Linked DNA regions of Homo sapiens: region 2 is linked to region 1. The links come from fine-mapping of genetic effects on gene expression. Tissue or cell type: blood mononuclear cells. Region 1 holds a variant in brackets; the other region holds the start of a gene. All regions are shown on one strand. Distances are between the middles of the regions.

Evidence for each region. PIP is the estimated chance that this variant, and not a neighbour inherited with it, causes the effect.
Region 2: APBA1 starts here. The variant in region 1 is fine-mapped to the expression of APBA1 in blood mononuclear cells (TOPMed, PIP above 0.99).

What each region holds. Positions count from the first base shown.
Region 1 is chr9:69,452,620-69,455,376 of GRCh38, reverse strand. All of the region lies in intron 8 of APBA1 (amyloid beta precursor protein binding family A member 1), which reads left to right. Among named protein-coding and RNA genes, the nearest start is that of ENTREP1, 130 kb to the right of the region's middle. The variant A/G (reference allele first, on the strand shown) is at 1,361.
Region 2 is chr9:69,671,263-69,673,762 of GRCh38, reverse strand. It overlaps APBA1 (amyloid beta precursor protein binding family A member 1), which reads left to right and starts at 1,392. Exons shown (of 13, transcript NM_001163.4): 1 at 1,392-1,610. RefSeq lists silencers at 1,315-1,364, 1,545-1,624.

The DNA.
Region 1 (2,757 bases):
CAGCAGTCCTCAGAAGCCGCCTCCCAGGGGAGGCCACAGCCCTATAGTAATTTTTAATAGCAGAAAACTCACCCACCCCCTGAGGGCCATTGCTTTTGACTGTGCTCATTTTTCCTCCTGACACAGAGGAATAGGCTCTGTTTCTCACATGGAGCACGGAGTCCTGATCTGGGAAGAGAAGATGGCGTCTGATAGCCTTGGTTCCTTCAAAGAGGCCCTTCTTCTCCAGTACAGCATTCGTCTAGCTGCAGAAATTGCCTTCCTCTCGGAAGTTAGGTGTCAGCAGCCATCCTGCTTTTTTCTCCGGGGAACCAGAGCTGTCGTGGCTGTGGGCACAGAGAGGAGGAGATGCCAACACTTACTGTCACCATCTTTTATTGGTCTTGTTCTCTAGAAAGCAGCACAGGACAAGGTCACTGGGAGAACAGAGAGCTTGAAATACCTCTGCCTGCCATTCTCCCTACTGTTCCTGTAAAGCTGAGGCCAACATGCAAACGGGGAAAATGAGTTTTAGGAGGTTCTCAGAAAGTTCCAAAAGAGTGAAAATTTGGACTTTTAAGCCTCCTGTGTCCTGCAGGCCAGCGAAAAGATGAAGTTACAGGGATCGAGGATCCCTGTAGGCCCCGCTGCTACCTCCATCTGGCTGGAGCTCATAGGGAGGGGTTTCTTCTCCTTGGGGTACCCTTGGATCCATCAGGGAAGAAAGGAAAGATTGGAGAAGCAAGAGGTAGGCAAGAGTGGACCTGAGAATCTTACCCCTTTGCTTTCACTAGAGCAGGGCCAGAGTGTGCTGGCTCCAGAATTGGGCAAGCTGAGCTTGAGTCCTTCCTCATCCAAGCTGTGCAGCCACTAAGCCTCAAGTTCCTCTTCTGCAGGACGATAGTACCTCCCTCACCAGGCTGCTGTGGCACTCTCATAGATATTGCAGTTAAAGCCTGATGTGTGGCACATGGCTAGTGGTCCATAAATCTCAGTAGCCAGTGTATTCACCAGGGGCATCCACTAATGATGATCAGGAAGTCGACTGGTCACATTCCCAGGTATATATTTTTCAGTTTGTCTGCATGTACCTCTCTGATGCCAAAAGCAATGCCTTACTCCTTCCAGTTTTACAATAGGTAGATGGTGGTAGTTCTTGATGTGATTTGTAAAGTCATCAGATTCTAACAGTGAGAAAAGTTAAGTATTTCTTTTCCCATAGCCAGCCACACGGAAAGTTCCCATTTTGCTGTTAATAAGGTGCTTTTAGGAAAGGTGGGGAAAGAGCAGTGGAGGTTAGAATTGTGTTTTTAAAACACCGCTCTAGAGATTTTCTGGTTTGGCTTTTTCTGCCCATCAGAATTTCACAGAGAAGCCTTCC[A/G]GTGTGGTGGGCAGGAGGATGGGCTCTGGATTCAGCCCCCAGCCCCTTCTCAGGAAGTGTGCAGTTTAACCCCTCAACCTCCATATCCTGTTCTACCCAGTGGGGACACTAATACAGATCCATAGTTCCAAAGTCTAGAAAGCTCTGAGAAACAAAAGGGATTTTTGAAGTCAGGTGGCTGATAAACTTGCCTTGCCTGCTGGCAGGCCGTTTATAGAATTTGTCTAGCTTACCATGAATCTTACAGATTTTGCCACAGAAATGTTACTGTGCTCTGTGTACTTCCCCAGACCGTCAGGGGGTTATGGCACAATGTACAGTATTTGCACCCTGCTACCTTTCTAAAATTGGAAAAGTTTTGAATTCTGAAGCAGAGCCTCTTGCATTCCAAGTGAAGGATTGTGGACCAGTCATACTAATAGCTGTCATAGAATCGATATGCAGATTCAGTGATGGTCCTTGTATAGCATTTACTTTTCATAGCATATACCTTGTATAGCATTTACTGCAGCATAGCCACATGAGAAGTGCTCAGTTGCTCTTGGCTGTCTGGATTAATAATGTTGCTTAATTAATGCAGGGAAAAGCTATCAAAACCCAGTGTAGAAGCCAGTGCCACCTCCTGCAAGCTGTGTGAATTTGAGAGGTTCCTTTGTGTCTCTGGGCCTCCATCTCCTCAACTGGAAAATGCAGGGTTGGACCAGTCAGAGTTCTCAACTCTGTTAGACCCAACCCTCCCTTTCTACAATAAATATCTTATTAATGACCCATTACTATCCTGAAATGAAATTCATAGCTAATATAACCTCCCCTATTGAAAAATCTTTCACAGAATAATCAAATTGTGGCCATAAATATAATATAAAGGAAAGATAAGTGGAAAGCAAACTAAAATAAAACCATATTACAATATGTATTAATAAATGCTCTGGCGCAACCATTCTGAAAGGCATAATGAGATAGTGAGATGCTTATGCCTACTTGATTAAGCTTGGATGTAGGAGAACGCAGTGTGCAGTGGGATATCATAAACTTTCCAGTTGACATTTCAAATTGAGGGCCAAATAATATGTATGTATCTACAAGCACATGCATAATCACCATGCATGACAGCACACGTGCAGGTTGATAGGGATGTGATTTATCGGCAACACAGATATCACAGCAGCGCTGATGTTGATTTTCCAAAGTCATGAAGTTTCCTCCTGGTGAAGTACTGAATGAAGCAAAATAACATCATCTCTCAATTCAGACGGTATTATTCTTGAAATGTTCGATGTGTATTAGAGCCATACAAAGTCTTTGTGTTTATGTATAAATTGGAGTTGAATCCTGGACTCAGGTAACTGTAAACAAGTATTGCATGCACATGAATGTCCAGAGGGATCTGTGAAGAT
Region 2 (2,500 bases), 220 kb before region 1:
GGACAAGCAGACATCTTCCTAGTATATAATTTTAAATTTTACTAAAATCTTTTTGAGAAGGTAGCTATTGTTTTATTAAAGCAAAAAAAAATTACAAAGTACAATGCAAAATTCATATGAATTTTAAAGCTAAAACAAGACTTTCAGAATGCTTTAGGCTACACCCCCAGACTTCTCTAGAGACGTGCTTAAAATAATATGGAAACACGGTGTGGTAAAAGATCCATTTCCCAAGGGATCTGGATAACCAGCGCTTATCTTCATTTTACTGGAGAATACATGTGCGGAGAGGGCTTTGCAAACTACAAGGCTTTGTGCATTATAACATTATTATGGAAAAATCTGTGTTTCTAAGAGGGGGAATGATTTAGCTATTGCATTGCCAATTACAGGTGGGGCTGGCGCCAGAGCCCAGGCCTCCCGGGGCCTGTCTAGCCCACAGCTTTTCATTAATGCACAGCACTTGCCACCTGGTCCCTGCCGCAAAGGGTGGCCTCTCGAGTTAGGAGCCATATCTAGGGCGGATGGCCTGTGCTAGGCTCAAAGACACTTAAGTTCCGATCAACCAGAACTGAGGAGCGGGTAGGAAAACCAAGCCGAGCCTTCCTCGGCTTCACAATCCGCAGGCTCTCCGCTGTCCCCGGCGGGACTCGGCAGTTCCCCTGGAGGGCTGCAGCCCGGCTGTCTTCGCTCAGGCCCAAGCCCGCGCGGCTCTCCCCCTGGCGGAGAACTCGCAGGACTGCGACGCATTCCGGAGACGCCGTCAATCTCCGAATTTGAAGCGCAGGCGATATCTAAGGGGCCTGGGAAGCGGGAAAGCTCGGGAGTCACTCCGGAGAGAACACCCTGCAGGAGTCGACGCGGCTGCCTGGCTTCGTGGTCCTGCAGCGTGGCCCGTTGCTTCGCGCAGAGGTTGGCCACAGCTGCTGGCTAGGAAACTGGGGACCACCTGGGTTGCCACCGAGGAGGGTGGAGGCCCCCGTCAGTCCCCTCGGGGATGCAGCTGCATTTTCCCCTCCTTGCGTCCGGCCGGGAGCCAGAGGATGGGGCTGTGGAACCCATTCCGAAAGGCAGGGCGGGCCCTTCGGAACCCGGACGCGAGGGAAGGCGAGAGGCGCGGGTGTGCCGCACGCCCACCGGCGCCGGGGCAGGGGCGCTGCAGCCGGCGGCCCACGGAGGACATCAGCGGTGCCGCCGCCGCCGCCGCGGGCTCGCGGGCCGCGCGCGCACGCGAGTGGGCGAGGGAGGCAGGGGCGCTACTAGCAGGCGGCGTGCGCGCGCGCGCTCCCCCGCGCCCTCCCTCGCAGGCCCGCCCGGCCCCAGCGCGCGTCACGAGGGGCCAGCGAGCTAGCTGGAGGGCGGGAGGGAGGGTGGGGAAAGGGGGTGGGGCCGCGAGACCGGAGGGGTCCGAGCAGCGGCTGCGGAGCCGGAGCTGGGCGAGGGCGGCTGCGGTCCCGGCGGCGGCGGCGGCGGCGGCAGCTGCGGCGGGAGAAGATGGTGGCGCTGGAGGCAGCAGCGGCTGGAGCGGAGCTTTATTCCCAGGCTTGGCACCAGCGCTGTCACTAGCGCCGCCTGCTCCCGCGGGCCCGCGGACCCAGCTGTCAGGCAAGGTACCACAGCCAGGGAGGGGTGGGTGAGAAGGGGTGCCCGGCGCTGATGCGGCCCCCGACGGAGCCCGGGTCCTCGCCAAAGGGCGCCCCCGGACGCGAGAGGGGCTGCCTGGAACAATAGTGCGGAGGAGCGGAGGCAGCAGGCGACATCCAGGAGGCAGTGCCTGGAACCATCAGCTAGCGAGGCGGGGGAAGGCGGCGTTGCGAGCGAGACGCCTGGGGTCCGGTGCCCGCTGAGATGCCGGGCTTCGGGCGCAGCAGGCGGGCCTGATGACAGTCATGGCAGGAGTGAGTGTGTGAGAGTGTGTGTGTAAAAGGTACAGCAGAGGGGATGGGGTGGCGGACGGAGGTGTTGGGGGGTGACATTTCCAGGAATCCCCGCTAGGACCCCCTCATCTCTCGGCTGACTCTCCTGGAGAAAGAATGTGATGATGGAAACGGTGAGGTGGGCAGGATGCACTTGGTGTGTGAAGTGTGGAGGGAGGCAGTGGGATAGGGGCCGGTTTGTAAAATCCTGTATATGTGTGTGTACGCGTGTGGTTGCATCCACGTTCCCCAAACTGCGCCCCAAATCCAGAGATCTGCCGCTGCCCTTACTTGATGTCACCGGCTAAGACTGTGGGACAGTGTTTGTTATTTTGACCCTGCAACTCTGAGCACAGTGTCTGTTCTGCTCCTGCGTGTGGATGGCCCAGTGTAGGGATTCTCGCTTCCCCTTCCTCTGGCCTCATGACATGGGGATGTGGAAGTGAGCATGTTGCTTTGAGGCACATGGCAGGGAAATAGGATAACCGTTACACATTCTGGGCTTGCTAATGTACCTGGTTTTGAAGGGGCCTTCCATCCTGTGATACTACTTCTCTCCTTAGCACCTGTTCCATAAGGGTCTT